4 separate regions of the Homo sapiens genome follow, and regions 1, 2 and 4 are each linked to region 3. Evidence: fine-mapped expression QTL. A gene starts in region 3. Each other region holds a variant in brackets. All regions are shown on one strand. Distances are between the middles of the regions.

Evidence for each region. PIP is the estimated chance that this variant, and not a neighbour inherited with it, causes the effect.
Region 1: its variant is the best candidate, but not a certain one, in a credible set for the expression of CD47 in lung (TOPMed, PIP 0.66).
Region 2: its variant is the best candidate, but not a certain one, in a credible set for the expression of CD47 in whole blood (TOPMed, PIP 0.55).
Region 4: its variant is the best candidate, but not a certain one, in a credible set for the expression of CD47 in tibial artery (GTEx, PIP 0.67).

Annotation. Positions count from the first base shown.
Region 1 is chr3:107,953,723-107,958,989 of GRCh38, forward strand. No RefSeq gene overlaps it. Among named protein-coding and RNA genes, the nearest start is that of LINC00636, 73 kb to the left of the region's middle. RefSeq lists a silencer at 107-307. The variant G/A (reference allele first, on the strand shown) is at 2,891.
Region 2 is chr3:108,123,705-108,128,334 of GRCh38, forward strand. LINC01215 (long intergenic non-protein coding RNA 1215) reads left to right here and starts at 1,360. Exons shown (of 2, transcript NR_110030.1): 1 at 1,360-1,438. RefSeq lists enhancers at 543-802, 597-1,097, 883-932, 1,003-1,142, 1,423-1,472 and 2 more. The variant C/T (reference allele first, on the strand shown) is at 1,948.
Region 3 is chr3:108,087,761-108,093,027 of GRCh38, forward strand. CD47 (CD47 molecule) reads right to left here and starts at 3,271. Exons shown (of 11, transcript NM_001777.4): 1 at 3,103-3,271. The coding sequence starts at 3,148. RefSeq lists silencers at 2,995-3,744, 3,765-3,814, 3,825-3,884.
Region 4 is chr3:108,062,182-108,067,448 of GRCh38, forward strand. All of the region lies in intron 3 of CD47 (CD47 molecule), which reads right to left. Among named protein-coding and RNA genes, the nearest start is that of CD47, 26 kb to the right of the region's middle. The variant T/C (reference allele first, on the strand shown) is at 3,252.

The DNA.
Region 1 (5,267 bases), 130 kb before region 3:
TTTATTGGAGGCTTACATACAAAACATGGGGTTTTACTGGAGGCTTACATACAAAACATGGGGTTTTACTGGAGGCTTACATACAAAACATGGGGTTTTATTGGAGGCTTACATACTGTCAAGTGGTGGTGGGCTGGACAGGAAAACCACAACCACTTGCAAACAGCATGCAGCTGATACGGCATCTTCACTTAATACCCTCCCCCTAACGACCTTTATCTGGCAACCTTCATTTAACCCAAAACTCAGGGCCTCAATTCCCTAACAGCCCGTGTTCCATGGGACAGGCAGGGGGCTCAGATGTTCCTCATAGACAAGGAATGAATCTCTGGGCTGGTCACTCCTGGATTCTCTAACTCAGAGCACACATTCAGGTGCATCTGCCAGATAGGGTCATTCTAAGGGTACGCTTAAATTAATGCTATTAGATGTGTTTACAGGAGGAAATAGACAGGAAGAGAGGTTTAGCTTTATCTTATTTTCTTTATTTATGAAAAAAAAAAAAGAAAAAGAAAACCTTAAGGAGACATGGCAAAATGTTAAGATGTGTTAAATCTGGGTAGTGGGTACCTGAGTGTTTTTTTTTTTAATTTTGTATATATTTGTAATTGTTCATAATTACATGTTTTTGAAGAAATAAAAATATGATCACCACTTTCATTATTTTTAATACACTATTGTAGTTCTTTTTCCTGGTGATTAAAATGCATGGGCTTTCTCCTTTCTGCATATTATTTTTTTTAGGTATCCTTTCTACACATTTTTTATAAAATCCTAGAATAGGAAGGAGATGTAGAGAACATTTGTTCAAATCTACTGCTTGACAAAGGCACTTCTGAATTCAAGTTGGTGTTCCAGGTAAAAACCCTTGCTAGAATTTTCCTTTATGCTTAATAATCTGGAAGATATGGTTTTGGTTAACTATTTTGTTTCAACTAAGTCAATGTCCATGGATAATGAGTTTTTTTTTTAATGCAGACCATAATCAATTACACCTAACATTGATACTATGCTGAAAACACAGTTTTATCTGTAATGACACAGTGACTGCGAAGAATCTCAGTGTTATCATCATAGTCTTCAGTTATTATTTTGGTTATATGTGAAAGCACCAATTGAAAGAGAACTGATTGGCAAAATGTCAGATAACCTGGAGTAAGGAGAATACAGGAAGAGGTGAGAATTACCCTTTATTGAGGTATTGTAGGTGTGAAAGTTGTCAGAATCAGAATGGAGTCAGTCATGTTAAAAAACCAACACACAAACAAAAAACCCTAACATATATAGCTGGAGAAGGCTATGAAGAGAGGGTTCTCATGCTCGTATGCCCAAAAATAAAACCACCACAAAAGACTCTGCAAAAACCACAACTTTGTGCAAAAGCCACCATAACCTTACACAAAAAATACTTCTGCAAGGACATCTGCCCAGCAACTGCCTGTCAACCTCAGACAGGCGCCACCTTGTTATTGATTTTTGTAGCCAAGGATAATTGCCTCAAAACAATTCTGTAATAGTCCTCCTCATTTCTTCTTTAAAAACCCTTGTCTCCCTTTACTTCCCTTAATACGCATATAATTTACTATGGCACGTGTATTCCCATTGCAATACTCGATTCCCAAATAAACATAATTTTCTTTTAGAGAGCCTCTCTCTGCTATTTAGGTTGACATGGGAGGTGCTTTAGATATTTGATTTTCTGCTAATCTTGCAGCAACCTGTAAGGTAGATGTTGTTATATTCTTTTTTCAGAGGTTCAGAGAGATGAAGTAATTTGCCCTACCTCCTGTTGAAAAACATTACCTCAAACCTGAAAATAGGCAAAAAGATGCCTATATATCCTTTCAATATCAAACTGGGCCCAGGGGATTATTAATTCTATTGGAGACTACACCTTTGTTTGATTTACTGTTTACTATTGATTAGGACGAGAGTCTATGAATCTGTGGTTAGCTGGTAGATTTTTGTTTGATAAAAATGCAAATGATTTCTGTTCAATAAAAAGTATAATGTCAGAGGACATTATCTATCTACCTATTTATCTATCTGTAAATATACATTTAGTCTTTTTGATTCTGGAATCAATTTTAAAATCCTAATGCTTCCCTCATTAATAATAAAATTTTACGTGTATCTTCGTATTTTTCTACGACAAAGTTTTGACTTACTATAATTTATACACTGAAGATCTTACAGCTTATAACTGGGAAAGCCAGTATGCAAGCCAGGGCTTTAGCTCTAGAGCTGATGCTTTTGCTCCCACATCCACTCTTTCTGGCCATATGTAGTATACTGCATTACTGAAAGCTTATGTTGAACTAAAAAGCTAGTCCTCCAACGTAGGGGTAGGGAAAAATCTCATTATCAGAAAAACAGTCCGATTTTTCATTTATCTGAGAGGAATGAGATGGAGAAATCCTATCTCTGGATATGAATCTCCTAATATATAAAGACCTTATCACTTGGACCCATACAGTTGCTCCCTCCTGTAAGTTTCTTCCCTCTCCCCGTCCAATAAATAAAGGAATAGAATAGATTATCCACAATTTTGTACTTCGTATACCCCTTCATAGTCTGGGTTATATTGAATGCGTACTGTAAATGACTAGTCACTGTTCCCACCCTCAGCTTCTATCACCATCCCTACGCAACCAATTTCCAGCTCTATACCAAATCCCTATAACCTAAGGCATTTTACAAAAATAGCTATATTCTATAAACTCCAGGAACATACACTCACAAACAGATATGGTAAAATCACACTTGTTCAGTTTAATCAAGAAAGTTTGGACTGAATTAGTGAAAATATGGAATTGTGGAGTATTTTTAAAGAACTGAAGTAGTATTAATTTCAAGTATCTATATGATGGTATTTCAGTTATAAAACTAT[G/A]CATGGTATTTGTCCTTGGGGACTTAATTAATGGAAAGATAAAAGTGGTATGTAATCAGCTTATCAACAGAAGGAAGAAATGTGAGCATTTCTTAAGTGATTGCAAAGTTTGTTCTCTTAAGCAGGTTAAACAACTCCCAGTTTCCTTGTAACCCTTTCCAGATTCAAATTAATGCAGAGTATCATGTCTTCATAAAAAATATCGACTGAGCTCTTTCAAATCCAAAGCAAGGATGTGTGAACTAAAGAGGTTTTATTGCTTCTACATTTTTTCCTGTAAGTTCCTTCAATTAAAGGAGCTAATTACTTAGTCCACATCCCTGGTAACACCATCTTGAAACAAAATGTTGGACAAGGTCTCCTGACAACCAGTGGCCACCACCCTTTTGCTCAGAAAATGGGGGCTACTGTTGTACCAGCCGGAGCCCAGAGGACACAGGCGGGCAGCTGGCAGCACTGCCTGCTCATGCTAATGATCCCAGTCCAGCGCTTCCCTTCTAGGGAAGAAGGAGGACAGAAGTGGATGCCAAGTTCTTGCACAAGGTCAAACGTTTCTGGAGGAAAGGAGCCAAGGTTAGATTAGCAGTGAGAATGACATAGGAAGCTGGGTGGAGAAAAACACCGGCTGAGGGGGAAAAGTCTGGAAACACAAATGGAGACAGCAGTAAAAAGTAATTACTAACACATTTCCCAACTTGGAAAGCCAGCCACATCCCACACCAGGGCCAGACTCAGAGCTCTTCTGTTCCAAGGAGGTTGGAGCGGGCTCAGGGACAGGAAAGGATTTTGCAAGCCAGCCGCCTCCCTCTCACTGGCTTTGGAACTGTGCGCCCTGAAAAGTGGAATTCATCTTGAAAGAGAAAGCAGAGGACACTTCTGCCTAAATTCTCCATTAAGATACACATTTTCCATACATACAGTGTAGCCATCCTTTCAGTACTACTCAATAGCAAAAGATAATCAACATCGAAACAAAGGAAAGGGAAATCTTTGAGGAGAATGTAAGCTTTTGCAAACCTAAAATATCTTCCTTCTCTGCCTTTTATCAACATCACTGGAGAAGAGAAACTGTTTGTGGGAGGGACAGACCCAAGGAAAGGAGGAGGAGGAGGGAAGAAAGGGGGAGGGAGAAGAGAAGCAATGCTCTCTGGTGTCAGGGAGAAATTCACGACTGGATTGACTGTTTTGACAGTTGATTTTTACTTTTTTTTCCCTCCAACTTCAGAACCATGACAGACAATTGCTGAACATCAAACTAAGGAGTGAACACTTCATCAGATCTGCTTGCCTTAACAACAAAAATAGCCAAAATGTTAAGACAGTCAAACTAGATTGATTGTTTTTGATACAATCTGTGAGTGGTTGACCCAAGAATTCTCAATCTAATCACGCCTATAAATACAGAGACTGTATCCACAGATGCAAAAGCAGCCAGAGGACAAGTGAGAAATTCGTCAGTCACCTGGATGCCTCATCTCTACAATGGCACTGAACAGCATGTGAAGAGACACCCGCAAGGGTCTGTGAGTGGCTTCTGGGCGCTGGGTCTCACAGGAAGCATCTACTTTAAAAGCTGGGAATGCTGATCCTTTCAGTTTCTATCAAGAAGACAAAGTCTGGCTTATAATAGAAAAACAGATTCCCCCAAATCATTGTCTAGAGGTGTTGAATCACACATGAATGTCAGCAAATGATGCCAACTATGGATCACTTTCCTGGGGACTTTATCTGGTGTGAACCAAGAGAATCCTACTTCATGCATTTTTTTAAACATCCACAGATAACTGTTGTGCTGTGTCATAGACCAAAAGGGAAATTACATTTTTCTCATAATTGGATTTGGTACTTGTAGGCTTTCCTGAAGACAAGGAAAAGGAAATTTATTTTAGATTCTTAAAAAACCTTGAACTAAAAAATTTCAATCAGCATATCAGGTGCCTATCTGAATTCAACCACCACTGTGGCAGAGATGGATGACTTCGTGTACCGGTACAGGAGAAAAGGGTTCCTGAAGCTTCATTCTTGTTTGTTTGTTTGGTTGGGCTTTTTCTTTTCATTCTGAGTTCTAAAAAAGTTATTACTTGATAGCTTGGTGGCAATGCAGTCTGTGTTGAGAAAATAGGAATTGATTAAGAAGTGAGAGACTGTGAGAGACTGAAAATGAGTAAGAAAAAAAAAAAGCCTACAAAGCATTTACAGTGTAATTTTCCAATACAGATTTGAGTAGATACTGCATGCACTTAGAAACAGATGCATTGTCAAGCCTTTATTATTGAACAAAGAATAATTTTTGAGTTTCCCCTTTTTAAAAAGAACCCAAGAAAATACAATGCTAAAATCTATATATTAGCACAGCATTCATTTGAATGCCTAATTG
Region 2 (4,630 bases), 36 kb after region 3:
TGAGAGTTAACAAATGAAAATTTTATTTAAAAGTTTTAAAATTTTGTTTTTTTTAAAAAAGGAGAGCATTGAAAGGTGATTAATCTACAGAAACAAAGAACTATTTCAAACACATTTAAAAAGGCACAATTAGAAGAATACCGCAAAAATAAAAAGAAAAATTCAGTTTGATCTGAGGGGGAAAAGAAAAAGCTGTTTTCATGAAAAACAGATTTTGAAGTACTTTTGTCATCAGCTTCCTTTCAATTCTTCTGGTTAATTTCATGAAGGCTGTGCGACCTTTCAACTTCCAAATGTTTGCAGGAGGGAAGGGTGGTAACGTGTGAGTGGAAAAACAATTAATTTTCAAGGTATGGGATTTTATAGTAGAGACTTCCTTAGCAGGATGGACCGTGACAGGGTGTTAGTGATGGAGACCTTAGGAGGAGAGGGCAGAAGATATGGGTTTGAGGTCCTGATGTACTCTGCCTGCTGTGTGATCTTGGACAAGTTCCGACCCCTCTCAGGGGTTCAACATCTTCCTACCTACATGAAGTGATGGGATCAAACACCTCTGTGGCCCTCTCTAGTCTATATGTTTGCATTTCTAACTGTAGAGCATGATAAAAAAATAAATCAGAAGTCAGTGATCTTTAGGTTACTAGTCAGGATGAAACTCAAAAGATCTATTTTTAAAATTATGAGTATTGGGTGTGGTGAAAATATTCATATTTGGGGTCAGAGAGTTTTTCTAATAGAATCAATTCTAGAGCATTCAGACTTGCTCTCACCCCAAAGAGGAAGTGAATGAAAGCTCTTCTTTCTCCTCTGCTGCTTTCTTTGTCCATGGGAGTATGCAAATTTTTCTGGCAACACAGAAGACTGAACACAGGAAGCCTGAACCCCGTGAAGCCATAAGGCTTAGCATGGGTGTGGAGGGTGATCAACCCCTCATCTGTCATTCAGAACTCCATGCTGCAACACAGAGGGGAAAAAAAACCTTCTGCTCCCTGTTTCAACCTCAAGGGCAGAGAACACAGGCCGAGTTGCTGTTCTTGTCTCACAATCTGGAGGCCAGAAGTCTGAAATCAAGGTGTCGGCAGGATTGGCTCCTTCTGGGAGCTGCGAGGGAAGTATCTGTTCCAGGCCTCTCTCCTTGGCTTACAGATGGCTGTTGATATGGTTTGGCTGTGTCCTCACCCAAACCCCATCTTGAATTGTAGTTCCCATAATCTCCACGTGTCATGGAAGGGACCCGGGGGAGGTAATTGAATCATGGGGGCAGTTACCTTCACGCTGTTCTCGTGAAAGTGAGTGAGTTCTCAGGAGATCTGATAAGGGGACTTTCCTCATTTTACTCACTCAGTTCTCTTCCTGCCACCACTTGAAGAAGGACGTGTTTGCTTCCCCTTCTGCCGTGATTCTAAGTTTCCTGAGGCCTCCCCAGCCATGCTGAACTGTGAGTTAATTAAACCTCTTGCCTTTATAAATTACCCAGTCTTGGGTATGTCCTTATAGCAGCATGAGAATGGAAATACAGCCATCTTCTCCATGTGTCTCTTTACATTGTCTTCCCTCTGTAAGCGTTCGTTTCTGTTATAAGACACTAGTCTTATTGGATTAGAGACTGTAATGACCTCATTTAAATTTGATTACCTCAGTAAACACACTATCTCCAAATAAGGTCACATTCTGAAATATTCAGGGTTAGGACTCCAGTAATATCTTTTTGTGGGGAGACACACTTCAATCCATAACATACTATAAGAGAAGGGAGCGCTTACCACTGTCCATTACCTGGAACCAGTTCAGACAACCATCATCTTTCTACATGCGATGGAGAAAACAGTTCACCTGGGCATTTTTGCTATGACAGGAGGAAACGTCAATATCAAACCATTGGAGAAGGTAGCTGAGTCATTCATTTGTGGCAGCAACCATCTTTCCTTCCCGCACCCCCTGGCTAGG[C/T]TGCTCCATGTTGGGAGGTGGTGTGTTCAGTACAGCCACAGTGAGCTAAGTGAGGGCTTCAGCTGCAGGCTGGAGTGACCCAGGGAGGAACTGCCGCCTATCAAAAGGAAACACCTGCCACAGAAGGTTCACTGAAGCCTGAGAAAATAAACGTCAAGAGCTCTGGGCTGTGCCACCACCAGTCTCCACCACTATTCTGAGGCAGAATGCACCTATTGGCTCACAATGCTGTGAAAGAAAACAAGAAAGTCGTGATGGTGAGCGCTGCCCTGCAGAGATAATGAGCCACTAGAGTAGTTCTGAGGCAGGAGCCAGAGGAGCTGTGACACAGAGGCAGTCAGGGAGTGGGACTGGGGTCACAGGAGGGGCTGGACCCAGTGGTCTAGTGCCTCATCTCATTCCAGATATGTGACCTAAGATCTGCATGTGTGTGCCTGTGCATGTGTGTGCCTATGTGTATGTGGATATGTGGCAACATATATGTGCATGCATGTAAGTGAGTACACATGCATGTGCATGTGGTGGGGTGTGGGTGACTGGATAGAGGGAGCATGGGGAAAGGGAGGGAAAAGAGGGTTAAAACCGTGACAGGATAATAAGCATCTGAAATACTTAACTACAACAAAATGTTCTGAGGCTTTGTACAGCCTTATTTTCCAAACTGCAGGTTGTGGCTCAGCAGTCAGCTGGGAAATCAATTTACCCATGCAGAGATTCTTAACCTGGGTCTGTGGACACTGCCCTTTCCCCACAAGAGGCCCAAGGATAGAATTGTATTTCAATATCATTGATTTCCTTTGTAAGCCTAAGAGTTTTGCTTTATGCATTTAAAAACACTACAAGAAAGGATCCATAGGCTTCATCACATGGGGTAGAAATGGCACGTGCACACATGCATACACACACACACATACACACAAACAGATACACACACACACACAAACACATATACACACACACACAAGGTTAAAAATCTCTAGGTCAAAACCAGCATTTTAAAAAGTTATTAAGATAACTAGATTATAAAGAAATTAAAAAATTTGAGCTATGCATGTAATGAGGGTACTGTTTTGTGAAACTGGTTTTAGATATACAAATACTTGTGTATATAAAATATACATATGTATATGTGTGTACATATTTATGCACACACATTTATTTATTTGTTTATTTTGTGATGGAGTCTCGTTCTGTCACCCAGGCTGGAGTGCAGTGGCATGATCTCAGCTCACTGCAACCTGTCTCCCGGGTTCAAGCAATTCTCCTGCCTCAGCCTCCTAAGTAGCTGGAACTACAGGCATGCCACCATACCCAGCTAATTTTTGTATTTTTAGTAGAGACGGGGTTTCACCATGTTGGCCAGGATGGTCTCGATCTCCTGACCTTGTGATCTGCCCGCCTCAGCCTCCCAAAGTGCTGGGATTACAGGTGTGAGCCACCCTGCCTGGCCATTTATTTTTAACTGTAGGGCATAGGGCAAAAAATTGATAGCTAGTGTTCAATAGCCTACTGGACATTAGGGTAAAAGATTTTTTTAAAAAATTTTTAAAAATTATGAGTGAGGAATGTAGTGGGCCATTTGTGTTTCAGAGTGGAGGGCTCTGCTATTAGGCAGACATTTGACTTTTCACTCGGCACATCCACATTCCAGCCAGTCTCCCAGTGAATGGTGATAAGCTGGCCCTGATCATGCCTGTATGGCTACACCCCTCTCTGCCTTGTTGAGGCCTGAGTTAATTTGAAGTGTTGCAGAGACATGTGTTGATTCCTGTGGCTACAAGGCTCCCGGAAGTGTCAGAGGCAGAGGTATTGTTTCCTGGGAGGGGTGTCTTCCTGTGTACCGCTGGTGTACCACTGGTGTATGCCTGCCCAGAAGTTTGTTCTTTCACACCCACAGGGCCACCTGAAGAAACAGAGATAGGGTCTCCCACGGAATGGGGCAGCAAAAGAAGTAAAGCAAAAGTGAAGAAAAGAGAAATAGGGGGCAGCAAGTGTTCAGGAAAAGGGGGGTCAGATAGGAGAGAGAAGCAAAGAGAAAAATCAAAGTGTATAAAGCAAGTGGCGGGACTCGCTGAGCTGTAGGTGTAGTAAGAAGCTATCACACCAGCCTGTTAGCTCCCTGCAGGATTCACAGCATCAAGGATGGTGAAACCGAAAGAAAGAAAAGGTAGTTCAGCAGGAAAGATCAACAAAGACAAATCCTGGGACGAATCCAAGCTGCTATTAGAATCGAACCAAGCAAAGATATGACCACCTATGTTAGCGACCTGTTGCTTAGTTTATTTTAAATGAAACTCATATTTACTTGATTAATTTAGAAAATCTGAGATTCACTAGAGCAGGAACTTTGCCTTCCTCAGTTCCTAGACCAGTACCAGTTACATGGTGAAGGCTTAATAAATATTTATAAAGGAATGTTAATTAATCAGCTGGTAATTGATATGTAAAATTGCTTGAAATTATAAAATAATAGTGACAACTAAAAGTAATACAGTGCATAATAGTTTAGAAATCAACTTCATGATTATCTCATTTAATCCTCACACAGTCCCATCAGGTATCACCATGATCATCCTCACCTTAAGAATAAGACACTAGTTCGAAGCCACTCTATGATTTGTGCCTGGGATTTTAATCAATATTCTCTGATGCAAAAGCCAACCTAGCACTTTGCCTCTTTGGT
Region 3 (5,267 bases):
CTTATGCAACTGCTCCATGGATTTGGAATGAAATATTCAGAGGTGGGTGTAGCTTGATTTCTGTTTCAACACTGTATAATCGTAAAGAGGAAAAACCCAGATTCTATTGTCTTAGTCTAGGTATATCAGAATCAAATTTCCTGGGTGCTCTGTATTTTCTACTTTAGTACTACAATGAGTTTAACAAAACTGATCCTACACTATTATTCTTGTTCTTTTTATCACAGAAGAAATATCTACACTAGTATACAAAGTGAAAGTAACTTTATGATAACCCAAGACGATATTATTAAAATCAGACTGAGAGATAAGATATGAAAATAGAAATGTTTATCTTGTATAAAAAGGTAGGCAGAAACCTAAGACAGGGAAAGTGATTGAAAATTATGCCACAAAAAGAACATTACTATATTAAAAGCAATGCCTATATACTAGCTATAGCTGAATTCATACTATGAAATGCAAATCTAGTTTTGCGAATATGCGTGATTATTTTGGATTTAGAATATGTATCAATTTGGGGGGAAAGTCATCTATCTCTCATCTTTAGAACTTGGCCTTTCAAATCTCCATGAACAACTCAGTGACAAAGATAAAACATCTGCCAAAACACAGATGACAGCATGAGCAAGTGTCCTAATGGTAGGCATTTAGTGTAATGCTTTAAAAAACACTGCCTCTAGACTGCTGGGGCGGCCCCATAAATACGTACTTTTAAATAGGCATTTACTTCCTTAAAATGGCAACTTGTAATTAAAAATAATATATTCTTTAAGAGAAAACATTTTTATTTAAACAAGCCAAATTACTACTAGACTTAGACGATGGAAAAAAATTTTATTTAATCATATGTACCCTGATTTAAAAAAAAAAACAACTCATTTTGAACAAAGAGGAATCATTCAACCACTGAAAAGACAGTTCACAACACCATCATTATTTATTTAAAGTTTTATTTGCTAGCTAATAAATACCACTGAAACTATGCACTTTTAAACAAAGTATAATTGTACATGAGTGGGGGCAGAGTGGAATGCAACATAGTAATTCATTTCACATCTTGCATACCATTAAGGTGCCTTCCAGTTTGCCTGTAATTGCATGAAATGAGTATCTGAGATAACTTCTTTTACCACAAAGGCCACTAACACTGTAGAGGGTGCCAGGAAAGGTCCCTGATTCCCGGGGCTTAATTAACGAAACTGAAAGCAAAATCAAACTTCAATACAAATGAATGTACAGATCCATCACTTTCTTACTCATTCTAGATTCTAAAGTCAGTCTCTCAAACCCTTGGTTTATAACTACCTATGTGCTGAGACATCTTTCTTCATACATGTCCTTTTGAAGCTATATATTAAACACATACAAAAACATATTTTATAACAAATACTATCCTGTTTTACAGTCCACACTTAACACAACTCAACTGCATAATGCCTGTATTTTGCTTTTTTTTTAGGTTAATATTAACTAAGTAAAATAAAATACTATAAATTCTGAATTCGATGACTCTAGGGATTCGAACACATTAAAATTGTGTGTAAACGAGTGCTAATTACATGATATTAACTATTACTAAAGAAGGCCTAACATAAATCCTATCACTCAAAGTACCATTCCAACAGTTCTAAACTACGTGATTTAAATCTAACCTACCTGTTTTAAAAATAGTATATGGTTTATACTTTTTACTTTTTAGGCAGTTTGAATAAATGATACTGTATCACTTCATATCTGGTTCAATATGAAGGCGTTCTGAAATTATTATGCGATTATACAACACATCTCTGAAAGCAGTATTATTTTAGCTATAATGATAGTAAAGGCAACAAGCATACTAAACGTGATGACAGGAAACACTAACATCAACCATTTAGATAACGGAGACCTGGATTCACAGTCCCAACATCCAGGATGCTCGGGGAGGGAGGAAAGTGGTAAGCAGAGACTTAAGGGCATCTTGGAAATACCTAAAGTCACAAGCCTTTAGGAACGGCACACCGAGGCTAATAATCAGTTTAAAATCGAATTAATTTAGCATTCTAGAATAAATGTAACAATTGCTGTCACTGGTGCTCAAGCTGAATTCTGAATCTTATAAAAGTTCACAAAAGGCTCTATGGATGTGAAGTGTGACAGGCACTCACTGTAGAGCTACGAATGTTTCTATTCCTTGCTCAGTTTTTACAGACGAAGCACACGTTTTACAAAAGCGAAATGGATTCCAAAAGCTCGGGGTGGGGGTGGGGGGGTGGAGGTTCTTTGGCGTCGAAAAACACCAAATCCCATTCTGCTGCACATGTTTTGACTGGAGGTTACTGTCTTCCTATTTCAGGCGAAAACCAGATTACTTTTAAAACGGTTCCCCCAAATAAAGTGGGAAAAACTTCAACGTACAATTTAGAATGTATGCAAGTGGCTGATGGGGCGTGAGGGTCACGAGAAAGGAAGAGTTTCCAGCAAGCTTATTTTTAGGATTAAAAACGACAGCAAAAATTACACGGCCGGAAGATTCTTCTGATTGAATGCTGAGTTGAAAATGAAACTTAATTGTGTCCTTTACGTCCTCTTCGCTCCTATGTTCATGTGGGAGGCAAACGGCAGAAACCCCTTCTCACCGACTTCGCCAAAATGCGCACTTCCATCGCAAGAGGCCCGGGCCCTCCCACTCTCCCTCCCTCAACCCCAAATGCGTCTAAGCACTGAGAAGGGAGAGGGGTGCGAAAGAAGGGGATCCCTAGCAGCTGCAGCCCCTTGCCTCTGATCGCGCCCTTTCTTGCTAGTTAATTTTTGCGCGAGGTGCGCGGTTTGGAGTCTTCCTGTGTGTGTGCATTTGGAGATGGAGAACCGGGTGGAGGAGATGAGCCCCGCTCTCACCCAGGGGGAAGAAGACGACCAGGGAAAGGAAGGGAGGAAGAAGGGGGGCGCCCGATTCCCCGTGGGGCCCTCCCACGTCTGCACTTCGGGCGCTCAGGGCCCGAGTGTTCTGCGCCCCGGCCACCCTCTTCAGGGCGCCGCCGGGCTGGCTGGGGCGCAGCCCACACGCCCGCGGGGGCGAAGCGACAGCAGCCGCAGGGCTGGGAGCGAGGAGCCACTCACCGCAGCACGCCGAGCCCAGCAACAGCGCCGCTACCAGGGGCCACATCTCCGCGCCCGCCGCGGGGTCGCCGCCGCCGCCGCAGGTGTCCGGAGCAGCAGCCGCCGCCGCCGTTACAGGCAGGACCGACCGCCGCCGCGCGTCACAGGCAGGACCCACTGCCCAGGCTGCACGGCCGCGCGCACGCGCGCTCCCACTGCTTCCCGCCCGCTCCCCCGCCTGCTCCCCGCCCGCGAGAGCCGCGCACGCGCACTCGGCCCCGCCCCGCAACCGCTGCTGTTGACGCGGCGCCCTCCCCAGTCGCAGGCTCCAGACCCGGGGCCCGCCTGCCCGCTCCACGGAGGCCGGATGCCTGCTCCAGGGCGGTGGCACGCGCCGCGCTTCCAGGTCACGTCCTGTCGCACCCGCCCGCCCCTGGGGTCCGCGTGCTCGCCCGCCGCAGGAGGCTGAACCCTGTGTTCCCACGCTCGCCGGGGACCTCATTGCACCCGTTCCTGTCCGCGGGTCGGTTCCTGCCTTTCGCGCGGCGCTGGGCCCCACTGTCCTCTCTCTCTACTTTTCTCCTCTTTGCTTTCACTCCCACCCTCGCGCTTCAGGGGCCGGGTCCCGTCCCGCCCCAGCCCGCGTCTCTCCCTGGACCCGACGTCCGGCTGCGCGCGTGGACCAGGACACCTAGGCTTTCACCAGCGCCCGTTTCCTCCGGACGCGGCCGTCTAGCGCCGAAGCGGTCCCTGAGCCCGAGGCCGCCACGCCCAGGGCAGGGCGGTGGTCGGGTACCTGCCCGCAGGGAGCTTCCACTCGCCCCTCGCGGGCTCTGCGTTCGGCTCGTCTACTCGCTCTGCTCTTCCCTATGCGGTTCTCTTCCCTCTTTCTCACTTGGTTCTTTAGTGTTTTCATCCTCTGATCAGGGTTAATCAAACAAGTTCCATTCACGGTGGTAAACATTGTTACCTGTGAACACCGCCACCACCGGGACTAGCGAGCATTGTCGCAAACAGGCATTAGCAGCGTATCCAACACATCCCCACCAGCAAGGTTATTGAGCTTGGTTTGTGACTGCCCCATGTGCAGCCCTCTGCGCTGCGCTTGGGTTTAACATGCTTGAAAAATGGGTTCGAAATGTGGCCGCAAGCCACAATAGGGACAAGGCTTTTGAATTTATCGCTGAATCACACAGGCCACATCATTCATCCTGAAGCAAAAGTCTTTTAAAGATACTTTTAACCGTTATCCTAACTGATGTACTCTCTTATCAAAAAGTCAGGCTCTGGTGGCTGCTCTAATGGAGTGCACATCCTGTCCACCTCCTTGATTGTTTTCCTCCTACCTCCTGGGAAAGAAAGCAATTTCCCACCACAATACCCCACTTCTCCAAATCCTCTACACAGTGCGGCTCCTCCCAAGCATCCCATTGCCACAGAAATAAAATCCAGCGTATGAAAGTGGCACTGTCTATGACACTCTGTACCAGTGTATTGTATACTATCGAGCTTCTTCCTGTAATTGCTTTTTTGTGTGAACCTCTTCCCCACAGCATTATCAATTCTTTTAAATCCGAGAGCATTTTAAGTATTCCCTCCTCCAAGACTTTCCATTGAGCTCGGCAAACAGAAGGGGTTTAATAAATGTGTTGATGCGGCGTGAGGCAGGCATTGCTCTAGTGAAATTTGATTGCTTTTTTAATGATTGAAAAATAAAAACAATTGCCTGGCAGACATCTCACTAAAACAATGGTTAATAATTATGGTGGTAATGATTTGAATGGCAGCCTTGACACCCCGAGGCAACCAAAGGGACTCATCGATTCTCCTCCAACTGCTGCTTATGTGGATACAAAAGAATCATCCACCAGACTTTGAGCATTAGGGACATTGTGTATCACAGAGCAGCTGGTTGGCTAAATAAGGCTGTCAGCTGTCCCTGATACCAACCAACCCCCCTAAAGCTGAAGAGTGACTAGAAAGGACTGTCCCCAACCTTCAGAGGTGGAGATCGGGTGATGTTCTGTTTTACACTGGGAGCTACTGAGCTATATGCTTAACGTCTTTTTGTGCAGAAAATGGAATGAGAGGCCACCTGGGTGACCACTGCTGCTCTTGGGAATCTAGCTGGGGTATGTTTTGGTGGTGGGGCAAAAGCAGGCATATCCCAGGAGAGACAGTCCAAA
Region 4 (5,267 bases), 26 kb before region 3:
TTCCCCAAGTTTTTATTTGATTCATTACTTCCGCCCAGCCCTGGACTTATGTGTCTAATACTCAGTCATAGCCTTGCCTTCTTATAAGGCACAGAGTTTTCATAACTTCCCTATTTTCTAGGCTCAAATGCTGGCTAGAATGAAACTGAGTGTATAAGTCACAAAAGGCACATACACAGAAAAAGGAACTTTCTCTAGACATATGTCACATTTTCCATTTTAATCCCATATATATTGTTATCTAAATAGAGCTTGAAAGTTCTGCAAAGGGTTATAAAGTAGAAGCTGTTTCAAATGCACCTCACAGTCAATCAAACATTCATAAGAAACTCTTCCAGGTTTAAGTCAATGCATAAAAAAGCTACTAAGATCAAGCAACAAGAATTTGCCTTAGAGTACAGTATAATTTCATGGAAAAAGGTTGACTTATGTTCTTCTTCTATATTTTTCTTTTTCTTTTCTTTTTTTTTTTTTTTGGAGACAGAGTCTCTCACTCCGTTACCCAGGCTGGAGTGCAGTGGCACAATCTCGGCTCACTGCAAACTCTGCCTCCCAGGTTCAATGATTCTCCTGCCTCAGCCTCCCGAGTAGCTGGGACTACAGGCATGCGCCACCAGGCCTGGCTAATTTTTGAATTCTTTTTTTTTTTTTTTTAGTAGAGACGGGGTTTCACATTGTTGGCCAGGCTGATCTCGAGCTCCTTACCTCATGATCCACCTGCCACGGCCTCCCAAAGTGCTGGGATTACAGGTGTGAGCCACCATGCCTGGTGACTTACATCCTTCTTAACAAAAATAAGAGTTTGAATCTCATATAAAATTTATCCTCTTAAGGCTTAGAAGAGCTGTTATAGGAGAAAACAGTGCAAACAATAGCAACAAAAATAAAACATCACAAAATACTACCATAGACAGGGTTCCACCATAAAATGGTCCGTCTCTCTTTGAGTATAAGTACACTATATATTGAAAGTAGTTTTGGTTCCTGTTGATTAGTTCAACTACTACTTATTTTCCAGGCCACCTTAAACTTTTCCTTAAATTAAGTAGCCATTTCCAACAAATACACATGTTGAGGATCCCAAGTGTGAAAAAATCTGAAATCCAAAACACTTCTGGTCCCAGGCATTCTGGATAACGGACACTCCACCTGTCTCTGTGGGGTCTACTAATGAAAGAGTATCTCCAGGTTTTCTTCAGTGAATCTTCAGAAAGAGTTTCTTTTGGCTCATTTTCTTTGCTCACATGGTCACATTTCAGCAGGTACCACAGCTAATGTGGGGTAGGTATCTTGTTGCTAGCCCAGTCGTCAAATTTCTCAGTATAGTGAAAGGGCAAGGAATTTGATATAATAGATGCCATAGAACCCAATAACCTCAAGGATCTCTTATTGATCTTTTCTTGTCCTTCAGTAAGTGGATTTATCCTTATTTATTGAATGTATCAAAACATTAAATGCAGCAAAAAAAATAAATTCAAGTAATTCTCCACTTAGCATTAAGATAAAAATAACTCAATGTGTTGTTAACAGCAGGCTCTTATCAAATTTTCTAGTATGACTTTCAGACGGCTTGGCAAGGCAATCTATGTAATTTTTAAAATCTGCATGCTCTTAAGGATTACCCTCAGCTACAACTACTGAAATCAATACACAAAATAAAGTACATGAGAAATAACAGTAATTACATGCTTAACAAAAAATGTATAACCTTAGTGCTCAGCCTGACACAGGAATACCAAGTATCAGGGGAGACAATATAACATTTTTGTGAACAAATTAGGTATTCTAAAATTTTCTTTTATATGTTCTATAAAATAATTAGTAACCAAAAGCAGGCTACTTCTAAGAAATCTGTTGGGTTGGTTCATTCATCTGTTCTACAAATATTTACTGTGTACCTACAATGTACCAGCCCCTTTTGCTAGTCTAAATCAAGGAACAAGTAGATTACTTTATTTGACAATAATTGATTGAGCACTATCCATCTATATGACTATCACTATTCTAAATGCTGACAGTGAACACGAAAAGCAAACACAAGGCCTGCCTCAAGGCCCTTACATTCTAATGGGTGAGTGTGTGTGTTTGAGGGGAGGGGGGTGTGAGTGATGAGTATGTTACTCCCAAAACTTCTTTCCCAGTTAAAGAGATGGTGAAGGCCTACTCTACTCTAAGAAAATTCCTTTATGCATTTAATCTTTCAAATTCATGCAGATGAAGCAATGACATGTCCCTCTAGCCACCTGAAAAAACAGCTAATGTTATGAATGGACAAGAAGGTTTTCTGATTTTGTGACCAATAGACAGCACATACAAGATAAAATGCAGGTTGTGACTGATGAAATCTAATGAAATTACCAAGTCAACTTGGGGATAAAATCAAGTCTATCATGCTAAGTTTCCATGACACCCCAAAGACTGGATTTGACACACCCATATAGGCTCACACAGACTGCAGTCCATCCAACAAAACCCAAAACCCAAGAATTTAATGCCTGCCCAAAGACATGACATTTGGAGTGATTGGTAAGTAAGCAGAGAGACAGGAAGGCTTACCAGGCTGATGCGTATCAGACTAAGAATAAATCATAAAGAAAGATGGGTTTGATTTCATTATTACAGTGCTGTTTTCTGATAACTCTAGGAAAGTAATTTTAGAATATATTTGGTGTCTGTTGAGCTGTAAATGAATATTGTTTTCAGTGCAGAATAAAGCACATCAGACACCTTTACACATAAAATTACAATTTCATTTTTTAAATTGTTTAAATTTAAATTACTATTTTTCAAGTATCTAATACACTTATTTAACACACACATGCATACACAAATGAAAGCTTCTGAAACTGGTACTGGAAAAAAATGAACATTAATACCAATTATAAAATTACTTGACAGAAGACAAGTTAAATCATTTTATAATAATCTCCATACACTATCCAACTTGCTCTAATGAAACAATTTTGTCACAATGAATACTGACTAGACATCAGTCTATAGGACAGAGATAAAAGAGTCCAGGCTTTGTGCATCAAGTACTTTGAACATAAAAGATGAAAGAAGAGGATGTCCAACAGACCAAACTTCCTTTTTTTCATTATCAACTTTCCCTGCCTTGTGGATTTCACAATTTTTGAGTATATGGAGAAGGTTGTGATGTCTGGATTTGGAAAGGGTCAAGGGATTTCTACAAAAGAGTAAAATGCTGAGCTATAGATTTGTTCAATTCCTCCTACAATAAAATCAGCACA[T/C]AAGCACATTATTTAATAACAGAATGTGATCATTATATGGACAGGACCAAGGGAAAGCACTGGGAGTTCAAGATTATTGAACAGAATTCACTGTAAGGGGCCATGCATGGTGGCTAATGCCTGTAATCTCAGCACTTTGGGAGGCCGAGACAGACGGATCACGAGGTCAGGAGTTCGAGACCAGCCTGGCCAATATGGTGAAACCCCATCACTACTAAAAATACAAAAATTACCCAGGCATGGTGGTGCACGCCAGTAGCCTGTAGCTACTCGGGAGGCTGAGACAGAAGAATCGCTTGAACCTGGGAGGCGGAGGTTGCAGTGAGCCGAGATCACGCCACTGCACTCCAGCCTGGGCAACAGAGCGAGACTCCGTCTCAAAAAAAAAAAAAAAAAAAAAAAAAAAAAAAAAGAATTCACAGTAAACTTAATAACAAAGTCTTATTACCAGGGGCCATCAACCAGGTCACAGAATGATTCTTTGTGATAATATTTATTGTATATTTTACTTTCTTGGATGGAAATTTCCTAGTCCAAGATAGGCTATGTCTTCACTTTTTCAGAATAATTTTTCTAATCTATGAAGAAATTTCCTGTTCCATTACTTATTTTAAATATGCTTTCATGGCTGAATTACTTTCATTATTAAGCTGTCCTCAAGTCAAAACTCAAGGACTTGGTAGGATCTCAAGGTAGTGTAATGAGAACTTTTTTCCTTGAATTTTCTAACAATGATTTCTACAGGAACATCTACTCAAAGACATCTGAGCCGTAACCAAAATCTCTGTGGAGTAATTTTGAGCAGGGAGGGGAAAGTTGAAAAAAAAAAATTAAAGATGCCTAGAATACAGTTTTAAATTTGGAATCAAGTACAGCAGTCCTCACTTTGCACTATTCTGATATGAATTCCAGTTACCATGGTTTAATCAAATAAATCCCTCATAAACAGTCCAAATTTCAATTACCACAATATATTAACTGAGTAACTGCATAAAGTACAACTTCACTGCTATTTCTTCAGTTCAAAAATAACTATGTAAATAGCAGATGTCCCATCATGATCAGTGATCAACCATGTCACTTCTTTTGAAGACTGTTGGTGACTAGTCACTGTACATCTGATATTTAGGTCATGCACAGACAGCAAAGTATGGAGTTTTGTTACCTCCTTGTTTCCCAGTGATAAACCCATGTGACATTTTATAATGGATAAATCAAAAGAGGAAACTAGGCAAGAAAGATGAAAGAGTAAAGAAATAAAAACTGACAAATGCTAGGAGTGAAATTTGAATAGACCATAAATGGAGTAAGAGAAGAAATAGCTGATTGTGCGAATGTCGACATTACTGCAATGCAAGAAACTCTAGAGATGAAGCCAGAAGAACTCAGCGAAGGTGGACTTACTGATATAAATGAGGAAAGTGAGGAGGATGTAACAAAAAGAATAAAGATGTCCCAGAGGAAGTGACTGGCAATAAAATAAACTTTAAACATTCAAAAAAACATTAAAGGAATTCTTTCATGACATTGAGAGTGCAAAGGATAAAACGGTAGAAACCGATCCAAACTTAGAAAGGGGTATGACAATTCACCAAGCCATAGAGAAGATGCTTGCTCTGTATCCAAAGTTATGCAAGAAGAACACACAAGTGTTGTTCAAACTACTCTTGATAACACACTTTCATTCTCGATGTTTCTAATGATTTAATTTACCACATACTAAATACTAGCTTTACTATTTTTCATTTCCCAATGCCGTTGTTATTGATAATAACAGAGTTTTTAAGGTTTTAACAACAAAAAAAATTTTAAAGGTCATGGAACAATATAATAATAGTTTTTCCCATTCATCATGAAGATTGTTTTGCAGAATTTCAGCTTACATGGTCATGTTTATGGTCTTGCGGTTTTGTGCGAAGCCAGTATTGCCTGTATAAAACAAAGTTACAAAGGCAAAGAAAGAACAGATAGGCCTATCTCAAAGAATTTCAAAATGTTAGCCAGTTCTTTACATAC